Homo sapiens: one gene and its partners. The protein of the gene in region 2 interacts with the protein of the main gene of each other region in a pairwise test. Each region holds a gene or a part of one and is shown on either strand. Other genes may lie near its edges.

Region 1 (8,133 bases), on a different chromosome or scaffold from region 2:
ACAAAATCACAACCATTCAACCTGGCACTGTGGGACACAGGAGGTGACTCAGGGAGGAGCTGACGGGCCAGGCACATGGTGAAGGCAGGGGGAGCCTGGGCCCGTACCTGCTGGTGAGTGAGGTGTCCCAGCTCCTTGTACCCCAGCGCCAGGACGCGGGCTCCTTCCCGGGAGATCTCGGTGTGGATGTGGTGGTAGTCGGGCGGGCACTGGGAGAACTGCAGGGAATGCAGGGGGATGTCACGGGCTGCCCCGCGCCCCCACCCCTTGCCCCAGGCTGGGGCCAGCTCACCATGGAGTGCAGAGTTTCGGGGGCCCCCTTCACGGCCGCGATGTAGCAGAGGTCGGTGGAGCCCAGCTTCTCATACGAGGCAAGCACGGACATTCGCTTCAGGGCACTGGCAAAATGAAAGCGCTGGTGAATTTTCAGCCCCTGAGTTTTAATACTTCGGGGGAATACTTTCTCATCTGGAAACAAATAAGTACGAGTCCTGAGGGGCTTTGCTCCAAAGAGGCAGCCAAGCCCCTACCTCTCACCCCGGCCTCCCCCACCTCCCTCCTGCCTCCCCCAGGGCCTGATCGGGGCTCTGGGCTAGAGCAGGTGTTGGTCCAGAGCTGGAAGACCTGGGCTTGGAGGACCCTGGCACTGTGGCTTCGGCCAGGGCAGGGCAGATTCCAACCCAGAGGGACACCCAAGGACGTGGCCTATCCTGGGTCTAAAGTGAGCCTCTGGCCACCCACCTCGGGGAGCATCAGAGCTGTAGGCCTGCCTGTCCCCAAGATGCTCTGAGGGGTGCAGCCCACCTGCCTAGGGCTGTGAGAGCCAGTGGCTCCCCCTTGCTGGGCCTGAGGCCCCAGCCCCTCACCTTTGGTCAGCGTCCAGTCCACGGCCGTCAGCATGGCCTTCTCTAGAGGGTCACCCACGAGGGTGCCGTCGTCCAGCTGCATGAGCGAGTGGCACGAGGCCAGGGCCCGGTGTGTTTCTACAGGGATGCTGGACACTGGGGTCACCTCCTTCCCGTCTCTGCAAGGTCGGGGAACAGCTGGTTACAGAGTGCAGGCGGGTAGGGCGAAGCTGCATCCCCACCAGCAGAAGGACCCCCAAGGCCATTCATTCCGTGCTTGTCACTGGGGTGGCTTGGGCGCCAACTGGGTCTTTATGAGACCTGCACCTGCTTCACAGATGCCCCCAGAAGCCAGGCATTGTGCCTGGGGGTCATGTGGTGCATGGCTGGTGTGGGATGTTCCAGGCCTGAGCTGAGCCCCCGTGCCGCTACCATGGCTGACACCCAGGACTTTGTGGGGAGCCCCTGGAAATGAACCCGAGGCAGGGCCTCTGACGGGCCCTCACTGCAAGGGCTTGGGGTGGATGGGCCACCTGTCTCTCGACTTCCCAGAAACCCCATCTGGGTGACCTTTGCTGCAGGGCCCCTGATGCTTACCTCAGCCCGGCCACACCGCGCACCACCAGGCTGTCACTGGTCAACGTCCCCGTCTTGTCAAAGCAGCACACCTCGACCTTGCCAGCAAAGGGGATCCGGAAGGGCTCTGTGCAGTACATGTCTAGGGGCGGGAGTGAGGTCAGGGGTCCTGCTTGGCCCCAGCCCACTCGGCACCCCATCCCATTTGACACACTCACAGAGCTTGGCCAGGGCGATGAGGGAGGTGTTGACGGCCAGGGACAGCTCGATGGGCAGCTCAGGAGGCACGACCGAGGTGAGGATCAGGGTGCACTCCAGAAACAGCTTGTAGCGGTTCCGGCTGGGGTCCTTGGTACCTGTGGAGACAGGGCCTGCCAACCTGGAGCCTCGGAGGGTGGGCGCAGGGGACCACAGAGGCCGTGGCGCTTACCTTCAATCCATACATAGGCAGCTGCAGCGATGGCAAACACCAGGAGGAAGAGGATGAAGATGAAGGTCTCCAGGTTGTTCGCAGTCACCCTCTTGACCCCGAAGAGGATGGTGCGCAGCAGCTTGCCCTGGAGGAATGGAGGAACAGCCTTTCTGCTGTCTGGACTCCCTCCAGCAGCTCAGGCCTGGAAGCGTGGGCCTGGTCTTGGGGTGGCCTCTGCACCCTGGCCCAGGTCCAGGGCCGTGCTGCCAGAGTCAGCCCGTGGGGCAGATGTTCTGGGGTCGGAAAGGGCTGATACCTTGGCTGTCCAACTGCCCTGGGGCCCGCCCTCCCCAGACCTGGCCCCGCACCTGGGATGTGTTGAATCCGGTCCGCAGGACGTAGGCCACGCACCCGCTGTCAACCGCTGGGGAGAGAAGCAGAGTCACCGTCATGCCTGTCTCCTCGTCCTGACTCCCTCATGATCAAGCAGACGGGCAAAGGGGGTGGAAGCCCAGATACCCCCAGACGCCCATGAGGCACCTACGCTTCAGGCCCGTGGTGGCTTTCTGTGGGGGGATGTGCTGCACCACCTTGGTGCCCCCGAAGATGACGTGCAGCCGGGAATCAGCCTGGAGGTCCAGCACCCGGTCTGGGCTGAGGTCTTCGATGGGCTCCTGGGGAGGAAGATCGTGAATCTGGATGGCCAGGCCTACCTTGCTTCCTTCTCCATCTGAGTTCCTGGACAGCTGGACCTTGAGGCTGGAATGAGCCAGGGGGATCCCCACCCGACCAATACATCCCACCCAGCTCCCAGATCCTCACCCTCACCCCGTCCTGTCTTCTCCCCATTGCACTCACAGTGCCTGCTCTCTGGGGCCTGCACTTGGCCTCGTCTGGGACTCACCCCTCTGGACTGCTCCCAGCCCACCTTGGTCTGACATCCCAGGGCACCAATGTACCCTGGATGCCCTTGGCTCTCTCACCTCCTTCCTCGCCCCCACCACCCGGCTCCCCAGTCCACAGAGCTCATCTGTGCCCACACTGCCTCCTCCGCCTGTGCCTGAGGGGGATCCCCGCCACCCCCTGGGCCTCCACCTCCTGGCCTGTTTCCTCCTGAACAGCTTGAGGATCCCCATCCTCCACCAAGTACCTTCATCTGTGGCACGGACTCCCCCGTGAGCATGGCCTCGTCTACGATGCAGCGGCCTCGCAGCAGAAGCACGTCACATGGCACCAGGTTCTCCTGTGGGGAGCGGCCTGCAGGGCAGAGGCAGGAGGGTTGGCCAGAGGCCCTGAGGCTGGGGCTCCCACTGGGACTGAGCGGAACCCGGCCTCACCGATGGAGACGATGTCCCCTGGTACGATCTCATCACTGGCAATGGGCCTCCACTTGCGGCTTCGGTAGACCTGGGCGGGGCATGGGTGTCAGCACAGAAGCCGCACCTGTGCTGCACCCCCAACCTGGGTCTCCCTGGCAGCCACACCTGGATCATGTGGGGCTTGTTGCCCATCTTCCGGATCTCCGACATGTTCCGCATCTGCTGCTGCACCAGCGAGGCCTCGAACGCCACCAGCATGGATAGCGTAAAGACGCTGTAGTACCAGTACTCATCCAGGCACCAGAGCCCCACACAGAACACCTGTGGGATACCAGCCTGTCTGTCCTTGCCCTACCCGCCCTGTTCCCATGAGCCCCTTCCACCCACCGGATCTGATATGTGAGGGTGGGGAGAGGCTTCCAGGTTTAGAAGTGGTGGGCAGGCTTGATCCGGTTAGGAAAGCCCCAAGGGAGGAAATGGGGAGATGGGCCAGAGCTGCTGCTTTACCTGAAATACAAAGAAGGGGGCTGTGGCTCTCTCCTTGAAAAGCTCCGAGAAGTCAGGCACCACCATCTCGGCCCTGCAAGAGACCAGGCCCCATCCTGTTCCCAGGGCAAGGCCTCTGGGGTATGGAGTCTCCACCCTGACCCCTCCAACCTGAGCATGGCAGGCCGCTCTCAAGAAACCAAGAGCCATATGTGGGCGTCGGGAGCCCTGGCGAGCTTCCAGATAGGAGGATCCATTTGGCAGTGGCTCTCCCTCATCCTGGCTGAGCCTGGGGTAGACATGCTGCCCGCCCACAGCCCTCGGCTCTGCATAAAACAGATGAAGCTCCTTAATCTGCAATATGCTCTTCCTGGCAGCCTGGGGCTGGTGTCAGACGAGAGCCCGTCATCTGGTCGAGTGACACAGCAAGTAGAGAAGGAACCTCTGATTGAAAGATGGAGGCCCTGAAGCTACAGACAGCAGAAGACACTGAGACCCAGCCCCACCAAAGCTGAGATTTTCTATGATTCCTGAATTAAAGCCCCAGAATGGGTCGAGTAGGGTGGTTCACGCCTGTAATCCCAAGCACTTTGGGAGGCCGAGGCAGGAGGAGTGCTTGAGCCCAGGAGTCAGAGACTAGCCTGGGCAACACAGCAAGACCTTCTATTTACAAAAAATTTAAAAATTAGCTGGGGGTGGTGGTGTGTGCCTGTGGTCCCAGCTATTTGGGAGGCTGAGGCAGGATGAATGCTTGAGCCCAGGAGTTCAAGGCTACAGTGAGCCATGATCACACCACTGCACTCCAGCCTGGGTAACAGAGTAAGACCCTGTCTCCAAAAAAAAAAAAAAAAAAAAAAAAGGCTCGAGAATGCAAGGACTTGGGCCTAAGGGTGTGTTCTGCAGTACTCTGTGCCATAGTCCAATCTGATCAGGGCACCAGTCATGTCAACGAGGGTCATTCTCGCTCTGCCCTTTAACTGCATGGACGTCTTATGTATGGGATGTGAGAAGAGGAAACCAAAGAGCAACCCCACTGCTATCAAACAATAAGCCCTTCCCTTGTATCTTGCTGGGTACCTTTGCGTTGAGTAAGAACAGCATGAAAGGGAACGTAGTTGCCACAGGCCATTAATGTGACTGGCCAACCTTGGGGTAGGGGAAGTTGCTAAATGTTTCTTATAAATCCTTGTATTAGATTGATAGTTGTAGTCAACATATTTGTAATCTCTGAACAGTGATTAAGTCAGGAAAGAGCTCCCTAGGTGTTCTGTGGGTTTCTGGGTTGAGGACCATCGTAACAAGGCCATGATGGGGTTTGGAGCCCAGTTCTCCGGCTCCCAGCCACGTGTCAGCATTTGCAGTTTTGGTGAAGATGAAGGGAGAGGGTGTGCACCGCACATTGGCCATTGTACTCAGTACAAAAGGGCAGACATGGTCACGGTCTTCCATCACCATTCTGAAGCGCTGAGATGCGTAGACTCGAAACAGTGAGGACTGAAATGTTTAGGTTGGGTGCAGTGACTCATGCCTGTAATCCCAGCACTTTGGGATGTTGATTTAGGAGGACTGCTTGAGGCCAGGAGTTTGAGACAAGCCTGGGCAACACGGCGAGACCCCATCTCTACACAAATAAACATTTTAAAAGAATTTAAAATAAAGCTGTTGCTGAGGAGGGGCCACAGGCTAGACTCCTGTGAAGAACCTTACACTCAAGGTCTCACACCCCAGGGCACGGGCTTCCAGCTGCAGACCCTCTGGGGTTCCTGCCAGCAGGCAAGTTCAGGGGAGACTGGACTTAGAGCATGTTGCTCAAGCGGCATCACAGTCACCTGGGACATTTGGCTAAAAGGGCAGATTTGGCCGGGTGCAGTGGCTCACGCCTGTAATCCCAGCACTTTGGGAGGCCAACATGGGAGGATCACCTGAGGTCAGGAGTTCAAGACCAGCCTGGCCAACATGGTGAAACCCCCATCTCTACTAAAAATACAAAAATTAGCCAGGCGTGGTGGGGGGAGCCTGTATTCCCAGCTGCTTGGCAGGTTGAGGCAGGAGAATCACTTGAACCGGGGAGGCGGAGGTTGGGGTGAGCTGAGATCGCGTCACTGCACTCCAGCCTGGGTGACAGAGCGAGACTCAGTCTCAAAAATAAAAAATAAAATAAAAATAAAATAATAGTAAATAAATAAATAAAAGGGCAGATGCCTCTGTCCCGCTTCCTAGGCACCCTGAATCAGGAGGGGAGCAGGACAGAAAGGCAAAGGTGCTACAGGCAAATCAAGGACTCACTTGTTGCTCCCAAATTTCTTCTCAGCTGCTCGGATCTCTGAGTCTTCCTGGAAGCCTCTGTTGCTCTGATAGTATGAGAAGGCGTTTCCCACAGGAAAGGCCACGGGGAGAAACTGCTTCTTCTCCAGGGCATCGTAGGAATACTTGATCTTCTGGAATTCGAAGGACAGCACCTCAAGCCCGTCTTCGCCCTGCGGTAGAAGGTGTGTTTGCCACAGAGGCCCCTGACCTTGGGGTGTCAGCGCCTGGGAATCCTACTCAAGCCCCTCCTCCAGGAGCCCAGCAGGCAGTCCCTACCTCATTGCGGTGCAGGGCCACGAGCTCCGTGGAGCCATTGTTGGGGGTTGGCACCACCTTCACAAAGGTCGCTTTGCTGGGGTCGTACTCCTGACAGAGACAAAGAAAGCATTGTGGCTTAGCTCTTCTCAACCTACAGTTCCAAGACCCCCCCGGGAGGTTTTGGGTGCAGCAGCTCTATGGGTATATTCTGAAATGCCACTGGGCTCTGGTGCTGCCTCTGTCACTCCCTCGTCTGTCATCAGGACAAACGAGACCATCTTGCTGTGCCTCTGGTGCCACACTTAAAGCTGGGAGCACAAGGCTGGGCACGGTGACTCACACCCATAATCCCAGCACTTTGGGAGGCCAAGGTGGGCGGATCACTTGAGATCAGGAGTTTGAGATCAGCCTCGCCAATGTGGCGAAACCCTGTCTCAACTAAAAATACACAAATGAGCCGGACACGGTGGTGCACACCTGTAATACCAGCTACTTAGGAGGCTGAGGCAGGAGAATCCCTTGAACTGGGAGGCGGAGGTTGCAGTGAACTGAGATTGCAACACTGCACTCCAGCCTGGGTGGCAGAGTGAGATCCTATCTCAATTAAAAAAAAAAAAACAAAAAACCAGCCAGGCACAGTGGCTCGCACCTGTAATCCCAGCACTTTGGGAGGCCGAGGTGGGCAGATCACGACGTCAGGAGATTGAGACCATCCTGGCTAACACGGTGAAACCCCATCTCTACTAAAAACACAAAAAATTAGCTGGGCGTGGTGGCAGGCATCTGTAGTCCCAGCTACTTGGGAGGCTGAGGCAGGAGAATGGCGTGCACCCAGGAGGCAGAGCTTGCAGTGAGCCGAGATTGCACCACTGCACTCCAGCCTGGGCGACAGAGCAGGACTCTGTCTCAAAATAAAAAGGCTGGGTGCAGTGGCTCACACCTGTAATCCCAGCACTTTGGGAGGCTGAGGCAGGGGGGATCACGAGGTCAGGAGTTTGAGACCAGCCTGGCCAATATGGTGAAACCCCGTCTCTACTAAAAATATAAAAATTAGCTGGGCATAGTGGCAGGCACCTGTAGTCTCAGCTACTCGGGAGGCTGAGGCAGAACAATCACTTGAACCTGGGAGGCGGAGGTTGCAGTGAGCCGAGATTGTGCCACTGCACTCCAGCCTGGGCAACAGAGCCAGACTCCATCTCAAAAACAAACAAACAAACAAACAAAAAAACCCCAAAAAACAAAACAAAAACAAAAACAACAACAAAAAAAGCTGGGAAGCTGGGTGCACAGACAGCACCTAATGCCCAGGGCTCTGCTCTGCTGAAGGTGACATGAACTCAAATAGGAAGAACGCTGCCAGGCACCCACCCAGTACGTCCTCAATTCACGTGAGCCAAGCCCCCGCCCCATCACAGGCCCCCGGCCTCCTGCTCAGCTCTGCCTCTTCCACCAACCCTGCTCACTACACTCCACAGCTCCACACGCACATGGGGCTCGATCGTGCCTCAGCAAAGGGCCTTGGCATGTGCTGTTTTCTCTGCCCGGAATACACAGTCACACAGCTCCCTTGCTGCCTCAGGCTTTTGCTGAAACATCACCTTCTCAGGAGCCCCTCCCTGGCTGCCCCATCTAAAGTTCCCGGCAATGTCCCATCCTGTCCTGATGTTAGATGTCATCTCTGTTTGGCATCAACTGCTGACTATGAGTTCTCCCTCCCAGTAACACCACAAAGGCAGGGGGATTTGCCTGTTTTGTTCACTGCTGTTTCCCCAGCACCTAAGACACAGAAATGTTGAATGGAACTCGTTCAGTGCTCCCTGGACCCCGTGAACCGCCATCCATTCCTCTGCTGCTCTGCTAGACCGAGCTGCATGGAGACGAGCTGCATGGAGATGGGGGGAGCACAATGATGACCCGCAGAAACAAAGCG
Region 2 (9,268 bases):
TTTTACATCTTAAGAATTGGAGGTAAATAAGCCACGTTCCACATGTCATTCTCCAGTGCAAATTTTTCAGTAGCACTCCTCTTAAGTACACATGCTTTTAATCTGGCATTCAAGGCTCAACCACAACTTGATCCCAATTTGTACTGCTGTGATTTTAATTCAAGCTCCTTATCCAAATAGCCTATAGGTTCTGGAAACCAATGAATCATCTTGAACTGGAATATACACAAGCAGTAGACAGAGAGTCTGTCATTTGACACTGTACAAAGACCAGTATTTGCTTATTTCAGACTCTGAAAATAGTGGCCTGCCTTTTAAAAAGAAATGTCCAGCATGATTTCTTGGAAAAGTATAAAGCACCAAGAATCAGGACCTAAATTTTAAACCTTGATTAACCACTATGTAACTTTACGACCTTGGGAAAATCATTTAAACTCTCTGGAGCTCAATCTCCTTATAAAATAAAAGCAGAGAACTGGAATATAAAAATGAGCTGGAGCCAGTACTAAAATGCAAATTCAAGGCCCTACTCTAAAAACTTGATTGGTCTGAGAATGTTCATTTTAATATAATTGATACATGAGGTCCTTGAGCCACAGTGAGAAAAAAATAACAAAGAGTTCTCTTAAGTCAATTCTAAATGTAGATTCTTAACTTCAGTCAATTAAGGTACTCCTTTACACGTCCAGGATGGGAGTTCTGGCCTGAAAGAAAATCCTTTCGTTCATCATGGGGCTTGTTTTTGTACCTTCCGCCATACCTTTTGTTTAAACACCGAATTAAGACTTAGTAGTACTACAAACTGAACTTCCATCAATCTGTTAAGACATATTGGCACACAGTCAATTCAAATTATTTTTTAAAGCACCTACCAAATGCTAAGTATCCACTGTATTTCATTAATCTTCATTGTTGTGAAATATGATTATCTTAATTTTCTCAGAAGAAAATTTTAAGTTTTAGAGAATATGTACTCTGTAAGTCTCAAAATTTTCTTCTCCTGTCTGAAAATTTCCAAAGAAATTAAATTATCATCCAAATTCACTACCAACATTTTGCTATAACTGAAAATACATAAAACTGATGAGTATTATCATAATGTAATGAAAGTCTAAGTGTTTTTCTGTTTCTTTTCCTTTACTTGTCCTTCTTAACCTTTCTGAGTATATATTTCTTTAACTACAAAGTTCTAGAAACCATATACCGCTTTGCCCTAGAATTACAGATGTTTCATGCTCTGCTGTATTACCATCTGTGTATATACCATCTCACCAACCCCCTTTTAAAAAGCATTAATTTGCATGTATGTGAAAAATAACCTATCTTAATGTTTTCCAAAAAATATTTTACTTTTTAAAAATTGCTTAACGGAGCCGGGCACAGTGGCTCAAGCCTGTAATCCCAGCACTTTGGAAGGCCAAGGTGGGTGGATCACAAGGTCAGGAGATCCAGACCATCTTGCCTAACATAGTAAAACCCCATCTCTACTAAAAATACAAAAAAATTAGCCAGGCCTGCTGGTGGGCACCTGTAGTCCCTGCTACTAGGGAGGCTGAGGCAGGAGAATGGCATGAACCCGGAAGGCGGAGCTTGCAGTGGGTGGAGATCACACCACTGCACTCCAGCCTGGGCGACAGAGCGACACTCCATCTCAAAAAAAAAAAAAAAATTGCTTAATGAATTTTTGTCTCTCTTTTTTTTTTTTTTTTTTTTGAGACAGAGTCTCACTCTTGTCACCCAGGCTGGAGTACAATGGTGCAATCTCAGCTCACTGCAACCTCTGCCTCCCAGGTTCAAGCGATTGTCCTGCCCCAGCCTCCCAAGTAGCTGGGATTACAGGGGCCCGCCACCACGCCCAGCTAATTTTTTGTATTTTTAGTAGAGACGGGGTAATGGATTTTTTTATTGGAGAAAGGGGAGTATCAAAATTGGAAGATGTTTTTGGCCCTTAGAAATTAAGCTGCTGGCATTAGCAAATCATAAGCCTAAACAATACAACTGTAACTCAAGACTCATTTAGCAATAGTTTTAAAGACTAAATAAGGAACTAGAAGCACATCTTTTGTGTGTGTGTTCTGGATTTCAAATTAGATCAGCATCCAGGAAACTATTTAAATCCCATTTCGGTGGAAAACTGTACAGGAATATTATACATATACTACTGTCTATCTTATCTATACTTTTCTTCCTTAAAATTTATTTTATTTGTTGTGATTTAAAAAGCAGCCCATATGCCTTACAGAAAAACTGGAAAAGAAAAAACAAGAAAACGAAACTCCCACAATCCCAACTATCCAGAAACAAATCAGTTAAAAACCCTGGTGTATATGTGTATGTATGTACCCAAGTAAAGAAAAGAAGAAAATTAGTTTTTTTAATTAAGCAAAAGAAAAGAAAAACCTTCGTGTATTTACAACCAACACAGTAAAAACTTTATTTAGGCAAGAATCATCAACAGACGCTACATCTTGAAGAGGAAAGTTTAATGAGGAAGTGGATATTTATACAATCTCAAAGTATTTCCCCAAAAATTAATTAGTAATGTCAAAAAAACATCAACTATACAATAGAGAAACTACTCAACACCTTAACTAAGCTATCAAAATGAACATAATAGTAAAGGGCAAACAAACATCATATGCCTCCAGACGATAGAAAAACACATATTTCTAATCTAGTATTCTAGCCAAAAATGTATAACCTGAATAATGAAGAAACCTTAAGACCAAGCCAAACTGAGGAGCAATATATAAATAATAAGCCTTCCAATGTCATGAAAGACAAAGATGGAGGAACTGTTCCAGATTAAAAGAGACTTAAGGGACAACAAAACTAAATGCAATCTGTGATCTTGGATCGGCTAATGGTACTGAAAAAAATGCTAATAAAGGACATAATAGGGACAACTGATAAAACTAGAATATGGACTATTTAGTATTACATCAATGTTAAATTTCCTGAATTTGACAACTACTCTGTTACTTAGGAAAACATGCGTGTTCTTAGGAAATGCATACTTCAGTAATAAGGGCTGTAAGGGGGCTAGTACTACTGGCAATGAAACCCACTCTCAAATGGTTCAGGAAAAATACCAGGTGTATATATAAAGAGAATAATAAAGCAAACAGCAAAATGTCACAAGTCCGGTGATCTTGGTACACAGTATAAGAGAGTTATTTGTACTATTCAAGTAAATTTTCAGTAAATTTTACATTATTTTTAAGTTAAAACCAAAAATATCTTGGTTTTTTAGCATTCCTCATCATGTGTGTGTGGCAATTTTTTAATTAAAAATTGAATCATCAGTGTGATATATCAATTATTTAGTTTTGGAAGCCCTCCCAAGTACCTTTGAACATTCCTGGAAAAAGGTAATTGTTTTCAGGAGAATTAAACGTGTCTTTCTCTTGCTTTACTCTGAGAAACGCCACTCTACAAACCATGAACACCCACCCCACCACCATCTCTCTAACTAGTCTCAGATAATTAGAGGGGATCAAGATGGTGAATAGTGGCTCTTTGACACCTTGCCAATTCCTGTGAGGCCCATCTGTACTTTCTTCAAATAAATTATGTGAGATTTCCCTATAGCCTTATAACAAATCCTTTATTTAAGCTAGCTAGAGCTGATTTCTGTTCCTTGCATCCAAAAAACTCTAAAACAGCAGGCTTTTAAGAAGGTGAAATAAACTACGGGTTCTCTCAAAGCAGGGACAGTCTCATCTCTCTCTGCATCTGTGGTGCCAGGAAAATAATAGCTACTCAAATTCATCTTTTGTCTGTGCTTCAAAAATATTGTTACAGCGAAGGCTTAATGATGTAAGATGTAATAAGCCTGTGTCAAGGCAACCAATTAAGCAACTTCATTTAAAGAGAAGAAGCAGAGACTTATTTTCTGGGTAAGAGTTACTATGTATCAGACCAACCTGAGACCCCTATTTATGGCTACTGGACCACAGTCCTAACCATTCAAATTAGTCACATCATGAATCTTCCCATCTCAGCCACTTCATTAAAGAGGAAATGGGGTTTTCAAATTCCTGAACGCTGTCTTTCTTTAAATGTTACATAAAGCAAGATGGTAAGAGGAACTGGAGATATCTCTCTGTAAACTCAAAAATAGAAACGATTACATATATTAGTCTCTGAAATAAGAAAACAAAAATATTAGAAGAGTGTATGTTTCTCATACACATTCTCTGAAAGACCCAAACTATGTTTCCCTGACAATATCCTAAGTGGTAATGGTTAATTCTTTTCTTTTCACCATATTCCTCACTTTTTACTAAAAACCACTGACACTAGGCTTCATCTTAGGCCAAACGGTAAGGAAAAGATATTTAATCTTTAAGCTTATTTAACTCAAATAAGTTTAAAATAATTTATAAGTGTAAATTTTTAAGACTTTAAATGGAAATTATTTTAAATACCCTATGAAAACAAAAGTCAACATAAATGAAAAAATTTAAACATTTTTGGTCTCAGATAAAACATGAGACAGCATAATTACATAAACTTTATTTATTTTTTTAGAGATGCAGTTTCGCTCGTTGCCCAGGCTGAAGTGCACTGGCACGATCTCAGCTCACTGCAACCTCCGCCTCCCAGGTCCAAGCAATTCTCCTGCCTCAGCCTCCCAAGTAGCTGGGATTACAGGCACCCGCCACCAAGCCCAGCTAATTTTTGTAGCAGAGATGGGGTTTCACCATGTTGGCCAGGCTGGTCTTGAACTCCTGAGCTCAGGTGATCCACCTGCCTCAGCCTCCCAAAGTGCTGGGATTACAAGCGTGAGCCACCATGCCAGGCCAAGTGAACTTTAAAGTTGTAAGTACCACAAACCAAAACTAACTCAATCCACTATCGTATGCTAGACAGGCATGACCTTAAATGCTGCAACCAAGTTGGCTATTACACAGGTGTGATTACACAATATCATCTTTCTCAATATTAAAATTCAGGACCAAGAATTTTTTTTTTTAATTTACTTATTTACTTTTTTTTTTTTTTTGAGACAGAGTCTCACTCTATCGCCCAGGCTGAAGTACAGTGGCACAATCTCGGCTCACTGCAACCTCCGCCTCCTGGGTTCAAGCAATTCTCCTGCCTCGCCCTCCTGAGTAGGTAGGATTGCAGGCACCTGCCACCACGCCCGGCTAATTTTTGTAATTTTTAGTAGAAATGGGGTTTCACCATGTTGGCCAGACTGGTCTCAAACTCCTGACCTCAAATGATCCGCCTGCCTCGGCCTCCCAAAGTAGTGAAATTACAGGTATGAGCCACCGTGCCCAGCCTATTTTTAATAATTAATATCTGATATGTCCTAGTCTTCTGAAGGAATGTTTCTTCCTTTGGATTAACTCTAAATTAAGCAGCCTAAGAGGTGCTAAGAAATTACCTCTGTCCAATTGTCGTAAAAATAAAGCTACATAGATCATTGCTTATCACGTTGACCTGCATGCAGATCCTTTCTAAACCCAGATTTCATATTTGAAACAGTTTTGAAATACAAAATATTTTAATTAAAAATGATGAACAAGTAGTTTACACATATTATAGGTTAATTATTTACTCATTAAAAGACGTAGTGTCTGTTTTGATGGCATCTTAATGCAACACATCAAAAAAGAATTCTTTGTTGACCTGTTGCATTGAAAATGTCCAACATCCCAAAAAGCTTAAATAGTTTTGGTAAATAACCAAACGAGATTTCCAATAAAACTGTAAAATTCACCTAACAATAAAAAAAGTTTTTCTGTCCAAAAATAAAATCCAATTATGAGCTGTTCATGAGGGAAAAAAAGAACTGATTTCATATCAAGTGAAAACATGTTATCTCGTGAAATATAAGACCAACTGCTTTTCCTGACTCTGATTTAAGTAAAAAGCATCCTAGTTACCAATGGTTAATAAAAACTTCTTTTATCCTTAAAGATATGAATTAAAATCTAATTAACTTACTCTGGGTCACCTTCATTTGATTTTTAATGTAGCACTTAGCATGGAAGTTCACAATAACAAAAAAACAATTTGTTTGCATCATAATATGGTTAATTCTTATCTCTTGCAATTGCTATTAAAAATATTGCAATTGCTATTAAACAGAGTATTTTATATAAAGTAAAATACTCATTTTATATTATACAAAGTAAAATACTGTTTATTTTATATAATGCAAAATACTCATTGTTTAATAGCAATTGCAAGATTTTTAGTTAAATACCATCCACTTCCAGTTTAGTGTAGAAAACAATTTCAACAACAAATACTGTTCCTCCATGTTAAGTAAATTTGTAGGTAATACAAAAAATTATTCTTTCAATGTCAAGAAAAAAATAAGGCTCCTCCCAACATCTGCACATTACAGAACAGGTAGTAAATACGAGCCACTTCAATTTTAAACCCAGCCTAAAAGCCAGTAACATTCACAGAGTAATATTTCAAATAGTATTCCACTCGTTAATTTGCCAGTCAACATAAAAATTAATTTTACCATAAAATAATTATATTTTCAATATTAAAAAGTCTCATAGATAATCTATCATGAAATTGGGGGAAACAAGTCTCACAGAATACAAGTATTTAACATTTATTCTAACACATAACAGGGAACAGTCCCTGATCACCCTACATATTTGAGATGTAAATGTGTTTGCTTCAATAAAAGATTCACATCCAAGAAATAATTAAGCACCTACCATCTGCTAAAAACAAATCCTTTGGAGATAAAAGCTTTTACACATTATTAAAATATTTTTAAAATAGTAAACATAAAATAGCATCTGTTGAGAAAACTGCATACTAGTATTTCCTAACCAGTTTTGATAGCTCTTCAAAGTTCTGTTAGTTTTACACATTTTAAACACACTATGGTTGTACACATTTAAGTCCCAGTAGTAGTAGCTTCCAGAAATGCAGAGCTGTTAGGGTTTACATAAAACACACCTTTAAAAATTAAACCACAGGTTTCTTTAGAAGATTGATGAATGAAAACGAGTACATTATTCTTGGAAATTAAGAAGCCAATTTAAGAAATTATAATTTCCCTAAGACCACTAAGATATGTACTGAGGGGAAATTTTTCTCCTATTAATTAGCTTTTCTCCCTACTGCCTCAATAGACTCAAGAAGTCCTAGAGCTTACTGGGGGCATATATGGCAATGATTTCTCTCTGGAAGCTGTGAGGAAGTCAGACGAGCCAAAATTGTAGGGCAGTTATCAGTCTTACAGAGTTGACGGGAAATGGAGACCTGTCAAGGCTCTACACTTAAACTGGAATCAGAGAGATCCTTTCATTTACACTGACAACGAAAGGATGTATGATCAAAATGTAGGCTCTAAAAATAAAATTAACTCTCCAATTACATTATAGTTCTCTACAAATCCACTTAAACAGATAAACAACTAATCCTTCAAACTCAGCTATCCTAGAACAAAGACCATTTGACTAGTTTCCCCCAAGGAACCAAATTCTTTCAAAACTCTCTGGGAACAAAAATTATGCCTAACCTTCTAATAAATTTGCCTAGACAATCCTAACTTAAAACACACATAGTAAATTAACAAAAAACAAACAATTATAGCCTCGTGATTTATAAAGTAACCATTCAAAATAAGGTACAATACTTAAAAAAAAAAAAAGCCAGTATCATTTTACAGGAACTAAAACATCAAAAAAAAAAACAAAAAACAAAAAAAAACCACCCACCACCACCACCAAAAAGAAACAAAACCTAAAGCAATAAAGCAAGCCAATATGAAGAAAGCTAGTAAACTGAAGACAGCTTTTCCTATAATTTCTAACTTGGTATTTTTCATTTGAAGCCAAATAAGTTCAATTGCTTTGTCTGTCTAGACCTGACCAAGGTCTCTATGAAGAAAACCATCGGGCACAGGCAGTGTTCCCTCCTATGGCCACATAAATCAAATTTTTAAGAATACACTGATTTTGTATATTGAATAGTAAGTTTAAAGTACCAAGCTTCTGAACCACAGACCTTAATCACCCAGCCTTTAAAATAAATGCACAATCTTTACACAGCAGTGAATGATCTGGACTTAAATACTTGCTCAGATCAAAATACAAATGAGTACTGACCCCAAAACCCTACACAAATTTCGCCCACTACCCACCAACATTTCACTTTATAATAAAATATTTCAAATATTCTAAGTAAGGTTGTGTGCTCAGTCTTCCATGATGAAGCTCACTGGTATGTAGAAAATCCTTGAGCCAGTTATTTCTCTAATTATTTCGTAGGCTAGAACCTTATCAACCTAGTTGATACAGTCACCATATGAAGTAAATGCTGCTCTAAAATATTTACAATGGAATAAAAGAATCATGAAACAGTGTATACTCTTCAACCTTTTAAAGTACTACTGGATTGAAAAGCACTCATCTTTCCGTTGCTCCACAATCAGAATGGTCATTAAATGTCATTAATGGCCCACTCACATCTCACTGCTTAGTTCAACCCAAAAAGAACTCCCACTACGAAAGTGAATTCTAATCTTTCACACTTTAAAAAATTCAGTTAAATGACACCTGACACCATTTAATTTTCAGTCTCAGTCTGTAAGTTTCTGAAAATAGCATAAAATGGATTCAAGACCCTATTATGGTAATGTTTTTATTTAAGGTCTATTAAAACAGACTAAATTCCACAATCCTATAATAGGTAAATGGGCATATTTGAAGAGGAAAAAAATCCAGAATCGGAGCCTTACTTTTAACTTACATAATGATGATAGTATGCTGTAAGACGATTGTTAAAGGCAGCATGAAGCTTCACTTTACCAAATACACAATAAACTTTGAAAATTCTTAAGGAAAGCTTAAATACATGGGAAAAATGGATGGCAAAATATAATGGCATCTCTACACCCAATGAAGTAACAGGTTTAAGCTTGTTTGTACAGCTCCCTAAAATTTAAGCTAAAACACAATACAAAAACCAAAATCCACAAAATGGGTCAAGAGGTGGTTGGGAAATGTCTTACTCTAGATTGAAACATTTAATCATATAAAATAGATGATACTTATACAGTTACTAAACATTTTAATCTACTTTGGCATATTGAATAAAAGATGGTTGGATTAAACCAAACAAAAACTATTATTGGTACCCAAATAATTTTTTTTTAATGTTGAAGCGCACCCATCATCACCACTGAAATTTGCAAGGCTGTTTTTTTTTTTCAAAAGTGGAGACATTTTATTTGCCTTTCAGGAAAAACGAATCAAATTAATCAGCTAAAACACAGCAC
Region 3 (8,772 bases), on a different chromosome or scaffold from region 2:
TAATTGTCACAAACACAACTAGCTCTGAATGTATAAAACTATGAAGGTTATATTATCAAAATGTGGTTTGGGGTTAAGTTTTATGTAAGAGTATGTTCTGATGGCTGCAGTTGCAATGACAGGAAAATGTCATCCAGGTTAAGAAGTCTTGGGCTAGATTTTAAATTAATGCACTGCTTCCTTCATTGAGAGAGTTTTACTATGAAAAAAAAGCAGCTTAACTGAACGTTGTGCTGACCAACATGGACAGAATTGTGAATTTTATAAGGTGAATATATTAAATTTGAAATCATTCTCTTTATTATGTGGTAATATGGAAACAGATCATAAACAGCTACTGTTGCATGCCAAATTTAAAGTTTTGTTGAGCATGTTTCATCTATAGGAAGAATTCCTAATTAAGACAAGAAGCCAGTTTAGTACAAATGTGAATTGTACCATCAGACTTGTTTATACTGTAGTTCTGAAGTTAATATTTCCATGCAAGGAAGTAAAGCGACATGTTTTTCAATGGCAAGTAAAGTCTAAGTGCAAACATAAAAGTCAGAAGAACCATTTCTATGAATTGTTATGACATGTTCTTAATTTAATAACATTTATCAACAAAATAAGTGATAATATTGATATTGCATATCTTCACAAGTGCTCATGGGAAAACATTAATAATTTGATAGCATGTTTTGAATTTCGTTTTTTTGTCAGAAGAAGATATATGCAGAGGAAATTCATAGATCTAGAATCCATATTTTCCCATCGAAAGATAATTTAAACTATAAGTTTTAGGATAAAGTTTTGGAACTGGCTACTGATAAAGGATTGAAGATGCATTTTGAAATTACAGCATCGCTTGCTTCCTTTTGTAAAAGTTAAATATAAAACTGTTGAGCTTGTCGGAATTGCTTTAAAATTTCTTCTATTTCTGACATTATACCTCCGTGAGACCAGTTTTCTGGGCTTCTACTGTGAGTATTATTTTAAAAAAAATCAACACAATTTCTTTATACATTATCTCCTAAGTGATGTGGTGTCATAAATAGTTCTCAGATTAGGAAAGTTACCAAGTAAGAAAAGTGCTCATTTGTCACATTATAATCCTTAAAAACGGAAAGACAGGGTGTTTGTTTGAAGGGTGCATATTGGCATTTAATATGGAGAACTGCAATTTCCCTTCTAGCTTTGTACTTAGTTTTAACTGAGGAATGACAAAACGTTATGGGTATACCGTTAAGCCACTACATCAATCACCTTTAGGCACACTTTCAAATGAACAATGTATACAGTTTTTATAAATTTTTCCCTATGTGATATTTGTTCTGATTGTATTCATTAAAATGTAATTTTATGTTTGTCAAATTTAATAAATGTTGGGCTTGTACTTTATATATCTTTTTCTTATTTTTCTAGTAATTTTTTTTTACTGTATTTTACAAAAAAAATTACTCATGTGAATTGCAGATTTTTTTTTAGAAGGTCCTCTTCCACAGGAACTGTGGGTAGCTCTGCTCTGAGCAGGAGTTTGGCACACTTTCTGTAAAGGGTCAGGGATGAGCCATGTGGTCTCTGTCACAGCTGCTCAATTTTGCTGTCACAGCATGAAAAGGGCCACAGACAATAGGTAATTGAGTGGGCATGGCTGTGTTCCAAAAAATAACTCCACTTATAGGCACTGAAATTTGAATTTCCTGTATGTCACAAAATATTGTTTTTCTTTTGATTTTTTTTCACTCATTCTTAGTTTTTTTCACTCATTCTTAGTCCCCGATCTGGACTATGAGGGATACCCATAGTATCTTGGTATCTAGACTACCCAGATACCACTGGCTCTACATGGTGGGGGCAGCCAGTGGATGCACCTTTCCTGGGCACCTACTATGTACCAAAGATGCCGGGTGGTCCTGCCCTCCTGTAGCAGGGTCATATAGGCTGACTGGTCAGCATGCTCACCGGGTCTGTTTCAGCATCTCTCAGGAGGCCCAGGCTGCAGGCTTGGGAGTCATGCAGACTGTGAGATGGCTGCTCTTGTGCACATATGAGTTCCCCCTGCACCTGTTCCCAACAGCCTTCCCAGGAGACTGGGGCGTGGGCATGGGTGGCTTCCACGATTGGGAAACCAGGGGTGATGGAGGCACCAAAAGGGGGTGAGGGGCACCCCTCTGAGGACCCTAGGGAAAGAGCTCACCTGGAGATACCACCAGATAGAATCTGACGGACTTAGAGACAGAGTTGTCAGAAGGGCGGTAGATTCTACACCAGTAATGTCCTGAGTCTTCCTCTCTCAGATCAGTCATGGTGACAGTGAAGAAGCCAGCATCAGGGTCGTCCCAGATTGTGAATCGAGAGGTCCAAGCCATCGTCCTGGGCTTGGAGCTGGTGACTAACCTGATGCACACAAGTGCTGAAGCCTCCTTACACCAGCCTTTCTTCTCGTAGAGACTGCCCGTGGGCGGGTACTGGCATCTCACGGTTAGCGTCTGCCCTGCCACACTTTGAAGTACCTGAGCCTTGGATTGTGCCTGAGAGCCTGGAGAATGATGAAGTAACGCATAGGTCAAGGCCACGCGCACAACCTGCCTCACAGCAGGCCTCTGGCCACAGAGCCACCTGCTCCCTGACCCTGCTGTCCTGACAGTCCCCACCACACCCATCTCCTCTGCTCCCTGGGCTCCTCCTCCCCCTCACCTGGGAACAGCAGCAGCAGCAGTAGCAGTGGGTGTAGGGCTCGCCAGGCCATGTGGTCCTTTTCCTGTGCGCTCATGGGAGGGGACACCTGGAGAAGACTGGGGAGAGGGAATTGGGAGCTGGGCCTGATTCTGCTGCTCTTCCAGCACGTCTGATAGAAAAATGAGACAGGCTGAGGCCTGGGTTGGGGAGATGGGAGACTGCAAAGGGCAGATTCTGTGGGCACAGGGAAGTGGGGATCTCCAGCTGTAGGTGAGTCTGGGTCTGGTGGGCTCGGCGCTGTCTGGCACACAGCTTCCCAGGCCTCTGTAGAAGATGCCTGCTCTCCCCTGTGCCCAGCTGCCCCTCCCCACCATGACCTACCCCTGAGGGAGGAGCTGAAAAGGCCAGGAGGAAACTGTGGGCGAGTTATGGACTGCTTCCCCCTTGCTCCCTCTGTGTGCTGCCTCTCTTCTTTGCAGGGCCCTAGCTTTGCCGCCCTTTCCAGGGAAAGGCAGGCTGAGGGTGGATGACAAACTCAGGGGCACTTGGAACCCTGATCACAAGCCCCAAGCCTCACTGGTCACAGGATGGCCAGGGACGTCATGCCCAGGCCTCCATGGTGGGTCAGTGATGTGCTTCCACTCTGGGAGTTTCGTGGGTGCGGGAAAGGAGAGGGGAGAGGAGGTGGAGATTCAAAACCAGCAAGGGAGGCTAGGGAGGGTCCCTGGCAAAGGTCGGGGAGGGGAGGGTGGGAAGAGCACACGGAGCATGGGATGCATCAGTGGGGTGGGGTAGAGGGAGCCCAGGAACCAGGACCTGGCCTCATCTCTGCATCCTGGACCTCTGCCACTTAAGGACCCTGGAGAAATATTGTTTAATTAAAACATAAACAGATGAAAGACTCTAGCATATTTTTCTTTAGTTAATGTCAGCACTTTGAAGATTCAGTTTTAAAATACGATGCAATTTACAAAGAGAACGAGCTAATATATCTTAGGACTGGTAGAGACACTGTGTGTAATTGCAGTTGCACCACTGGGGGCTCTGCTGGACTGGCGATCTGCTGCCGGGAGCTCTGTGAACAGAGGTAATAACTGAGACGGGAATTGGAACTTGTCAAGTGGACTCGATTCCAAGTCCACTGCTTTGCCTGCCCCTGGACTCCTGCTCTCCACTCCATCTCAGTACACTGCCCTTCTCCTTACAGTAGGAGTATGCAGAGACTGAGAATGGGAAAGGCAGAGGGGTATGCAAAAGGAGGACACAGTAGGGCTATCAGATGTTGGCGCCCAAGGGCCCAAGGTGGGAAAGCAGGCTGGAGCTCCAGAGCTAGAAGACAGCTCAGGGAGCGATGCCCGCCACTCACTCACACAAGCATTATTTACAAAGCATTCTCATGCACACTTTCTCAAGACCCTCAGCAGGTTCGCGAGGGAGACATTACTTCTCTTTTTCACAGATGTGAGAACTGAGGCCCAGATATGGTCAGCCACCTGCTCAGAGTCACACAGGACCAGAACAGGCCTCCTGACTTCGGTCTGGAGCCTTCCGGCTGGTCTGGTTGAAATGCGACCCACAGACATGACAGGAAACCAGGGGTGAGAAAGAGGCTCCCACTGAATTGCACACACAGGCGGAGGTGAGCTTTTAGGGGGTTTCCTCGCCGACAGTGGGGCCCAGCTTCTCCCTGAACATAATTACATACCAAATCAGGGTGGGGGCATCCTCCCGAGGGGGAGGAAGGCGGCCCTGTCCTCAGATGGCACCGAGGCACGTCACCGTGTGTGTGTGTGTGTGTGTGTGTGTGTGTGTGTGTGTGTCAGCAACTGTGTTCCCATGCTGACTTTCCCCTTCTCTGACCCCTGCTGACTCTAAGTGACAGCTCCTTCTTGTAGCTTACAAGAGCACCCCTTGCTATGTGCCACTAGCTGTGTGTCTCTTCAGCCTGCAGCCAGCTCTGTATCGTTCTCTGCTGTGTCAGAGTGTGTCGTCTCTCCCCAGGGGACAGGAGCTCTCAAAGCGGGGAATCTGCCCCTCTCTCTGTGTTGTGGCTTCCCCACCTGTGTGAGTGGGGTGGGCACCCTCCACATAGACTTGGGGCCTTGAGCACCCTAGGGGGAGGCCCCTGCTGGAACCATCTGCACGCTCAGCTTCCTCTGGCATCTGGGACCTGGGGGCAGGGAAGCCTGGGCTTAGGCAGCCCCTCATCCAGGCTGGGACTGGCCCTGCTCCCTGGGGACCCACAACAGCCCTTGTCACAAGTTGAATTTCTGCAGGAGGGACTGGGGCAGGTAGCTGTGGTGGGATCTGGGGCCCTTTCAGAAGTCTCTTGAAGAGCTAGGGATAGTGCCTCCCCCTTGGCACGATCAGAGCAGGGCACAGCAAAGTCCTGTCAAAGAGCCTGGGGTTCTGGGGGATTCTGGGTTCCCTGCCCACCCTCTGAGAAGGTCCCTCAGAGAACTTGGGAACCTCAGCAACCTCCTCTCCCAAACTCATTGTCACACACACTCACAGGAACCCAGAGAAGGAGCTGGGAGAGCTGGAGACTTCATGTACTTGCTTTTCTAGCAAGGCCCAGTCTAGCCTGCAACAGTGGCTCCGAGCCTGGGTAGGTCCATGGGAAGGGAGGGCTGGCCTCTGATGCAGAAATGGGGAAAGCAGGGAGCCGTAGAGGTCTGGAGGTGATCCCCAAAACGCAGCACAGGGCTAAGCTAGGCTGGGCAGGGGTGAAGGGGTAGCTGTAAATTTCCCCCATGATAGAACCAGAAGTAGCAGGGACAAAAGGGAATTTCTCTCAGTGCTGATTTCACAACTGAGGGAGATGAGGTCCAGAGAAGGCAAGTAGCCTTTCCACAGTCACTCAGCTATTTCAGGGCCAAACCAGGACTAGCACCCAGGCCTCCTCTCTCCTGACCTGGTGCTCCTCCTGGGCTCAGAGATTCTCCATGGGCACTTCCTTACTCTTCATCCAGGCTTGCCTTTTGCAGATCCAAGGAGTCTTCTCCCTGAACCCCAACAAGTCTGCTTATACCTCTGACCCCAATGGCTCTCTGCCCCAGCTCCAGCAGGATCCTTCAGTCATCAATTGCCCTGACAGGGTTATTCCTGCTCCCATGACAATGGTCCCATAACAATGGCCCTTCCTGGTCCCAGGATGCCAGGTTCAAAGCATCTGGTCTCAGAGCAGCTTTTTCCCTGCCAGAGAGGTCAGAGGGACCTGAGCTACTGCCCACACAAGGCTGCAGTCTGGGCGCACAGCTCCCTCACAGGAAGTTCAGGGTGGGTCAGGCACAGAACCAGGCTTCCACCCTAAGCACCCTGCGGGAGGCCTGGGCTCAGGGAGTGCAGGAAGCAGCCATCTCCCCAGCTGGGTTCTCCCTGCTTCTTCTCCTTCCTTACTCCATGGAACCAACCCCATCCTCCAACCCCCTCACCCCGTTCAGCCGCCCCCAGGGCCCCGGTCTCTGTGCTGCCTGGTGCTGTCAGCCCTTCATGTGCTCCCGAGCTGCAGGCTGGAGCAGGGGGAGTATGGCTGGGTTTGGCCTGGGGCCAGAGAGGAGGAGCGAAATGGAGCACAGTGGGGACAGCTGTGCTGGTAAAGGTGGTCAGCCTCAGAAGATGAGACAAAAATCAGGGGTAGGGTTAGAAAATTATGTTTAACATCGATTTCAATATCCTTTGGCCGTCATCTCTGTTTGCTCATTTGCTTATTACAGGCCAATCAAGATCCTTGCCTTTAAACTCTCAGGCCCTCACCCAAGTGCACCCACACTCACACAGACACTCACTCCCTCCTTCAGCACTCCCTCCTTCAGCAGACCACTCTGCTCCATAGAAACCAGCCCCAAGTTAGGGGGTGACAGAGCTGGAGAAGGGCAGTCCTGGAGAGGAGCAGGGCCAGGCGGTGCACACACTTCACGAACACCCTGGGGGCAGCAGCTATGGAGGTCTCTGAAGGCTTCAGCTCAGCACAGGCCGAGGGGCGATGCTCAGCTCTTGCCACTCTGGGACAGCTGAGATAATGAGTAAGGAAGGGGCCATCCAGTGCCTGCAGAAGACACCTACCAGTACCTAAATCCCTGCTGTGGTGGGACCCTCCCACATTGCTGTCCCCAGCCCCTCTGGAACACTCCCTGTGCATCTGATCCAACGCCCCAAACAGGGGAGACCAAACCCAGTTCAGCCTCTTTGCCCAACCTGAGAATCTTCCTCCTCCATGATCTCCCCTCTTGCTTTAATTTCCCTAAATCACTCAGTCACCACCACGGCCAGCTCCGGCTCCCCTCTGTCCCCGCTCTGTTCTGCCAAGTTCAGGCTGCCCAGCTCAAACACGTATCTGCACATCTGCCCTTAGCTGACTCCTCCCTTCAGCCTCCACCTTCTCAGGGGCTCCTGTGGACAGCTCCTGGGGGAATTCTCCCTGTGCAGCATCTTGACAGGGCCCCAGCCCTTACTCTCTCCGAAGCCTACTGGAGATCACTCTGCAGGGAATGCATTGCAGGTTCCACAAGGCCTGGCCCGGTGTGGTATCCCATCTCTGCCACCTCCATTTCAAATGCACTTCTGCAAGCCAAGAGAAGGCCCTACTGTCTGGAAAAGTAGGCCTTCTTCCTTCTGTGCTTAGATTCTAACGGGGAACATGGAGGGAAGAAAGGGTCGGTGTGGCCCACTGGACCCCCTGGCATTCTCTCTTCCAGCCCCCTATCTTTGTAAATGGAAGAAAATAAATAAATAAAAAAAAGATAAATCCAAGTTAAACAAGAAAAGTGGCCACCGATACGTTTGATTTCCGAGTGTTAAAAACAAAATAAGAAAAATTAGAATGTCAGAAGTAGAAGCCTCAACAGCTCAAAATACCAACATGAGAATATTCCCTCAATTCATCTATGCATTAATACTATTTGACAATCAAGTATCTCATACATTTGAGAAAAATTAATAGCATGAAGGTAAACCATCAATACAAGCACACAGAACACCTGAATTTAGAATTAATGTCAATAATTCATGAAATGGATGAGCAACTTTCAATAATTGAAATAAACATTCTCAGAGATATTTGCAAGAATGTCTTATCTCCTTATTCATCAGATATTTACAGATTAAAACAAATTGCAATATTTATTCATTAATTTGACAAATATTTTAAAAGCTTGTCCTACTCTCTTGGCAAGGGTGTGGAGAAGTGGGTGTTATGTTCAAAGTGGGAATAGAAACTGTTCAGCATTTCTGAATGCAAATAATAAGGATCTAAGATGTTTAATATGTGCATTCCTTGACTTGTCAATTCCATTTCAAGGATTCACCCATCCTTGAGAAATACACACACAGGCACAAAAGGAGATTTACAAAGACGCTCATCACTGATTGTTTATAATAATGATCTCCACAGGGGAATTAATAACATAACTTCTGGTCCACGTCTTCTATACAGCACCATGTAAAGGTTAAAAAAGAATACAGCTTGTGTGCAAATGTAGCTAGATCTCCAAACATCTTGTTAAATTTAATAATTGCTGCAGAATGACATGTATGGTATAATCCCACTTATATACAGTAAACTGAACTCAAAATGGTTTGTCTGTGCACATAAACCTCTTATCTGTACAAACACAGAAATTTTCTGTTTGTGAAAAGCTATACATCAAACTAATAATAGCAGTCTTTTGGGGCAATAACTATGATGAATGTTGGGGAAGAAGTGGTGAAGGGAACTTTATCTGTAGTCTGTTGCAATGTTTGTTCCTTTACCCAGCTTTAGTAAGGTATAACTGACCAATAAAAATTGTATATTTTTAGTGTATTACAAGATGCTTGGATATATGTATACATGGTGGAATGATTAAATCACGCTGATTTAACATATCCATCACCTCACATACTTATCTTTTTTTGTGGTGTAAACATTTAAGATCTACTCTCTTAGTCCTTTTTTTTTTTTTTTGAGACGGAGTCTCGCTCTGTCGCTCAGGCTGGAGTGCAGTGGCGTGATCTCAGCTCACTGCAAGCTCTGCCTCCCGGGTTCACACCATTCTCCCGCCTCAGCCTCCTGAGTAGCTTGGACTACAGGGCCTGCCACCATGCCTGGCTAATTTTGTTTTTGTATTTTTA

Evidence for each region. Proteins that work in one complex are often made in the same cells at the same time.
Region 1: the proteins of KMT2E (region 2) and ATP13A1 interact in binary tests that used the Homo sapiens proteins (3 or more experiments, as listed by UniProt).
Region 3: the proteins of KMT2E (region 2) and NCR2 interact in binary tests that used the Homo sapiens proteins (3 or more experiments, as listed by UniProt).

The regions. Positions count from the first base shown.
Region 1 is NC_000019.10:19,653,677-19,661,809, forward strand, and holds part of ATP13A1 (endoplasmic reticulum transmembrane helix translocase), read right to left. Parts: intron 6,312-8,133; coding exon 6,222-6,311; intron 6,116-6,221; coding exon 5,925-6,115; intron 3,733-5,924; coding exon 3,660-3,732; intron 3,474-3,659; coding exon 3,318-3,473; intron 3,241-3,317; coding exon 3,171-3,240; intron 3,091-3,170; coding exon 2,984-3,090; intron 2,508-2,983; coding exon 2,378-2,507; intron 2,258-2,377; coding exon 2,202-2,257; intron 1,979-2,201; coding exon 1,852-1,978; intron 1,778-1,851; coding exon 1,640-1,777; intron 1,564-1,639; coding exon 1,443-1,563; intron 1,025-1,442; coding exon 867-1,024; intron 469-866; coding exon 293-468; intron 219-292; coding exon 108-218; intron 1-107. UniProt on the Homo sapiens protein: Endoplasmic reticulum translocase required to remove mitochondrial transmembrane proteins mistargeted to the endoplasmic reticulum.
Region 2 is NC_000007.14:105,015,848-105,025,115, reverse strand, and holds part of KMT2E (inactive histone-lysine N-methyltransferase 2E), read right to left. Parts: intron 1-9,268. UniProt on the Homo sapiens protein: Associates with chromatin regions downstream of transcriptional start sites of active genes and thus regulates gene transcription. Chromatin interaction is mediated via the binding to tri-methylated histone H3 at 'Lys-4' (H3K4me3).
Region 3 is NC_000006.12:41,329,836-41,338,607, reverse strand, and holds the start of NCR2 (natural cytotoxicity triggering receptor 2 isoform 1 precursor), read right to left. Parts: upstream 3,001-8,772; 5' UTR 2,756-3,000; coding exon of another isoform or gene 2,732-2,755; coding exon 2,680-2,731; intron 2,522-2,679; coding exon 2,180-2,521; intron 1-2,179. UniProt on the Homo sapiens protein: Cytotoxicity-activating receptor that may contribute to the increased efficiency of activated natural killer (NK) cells to mediate tumor cell lysis.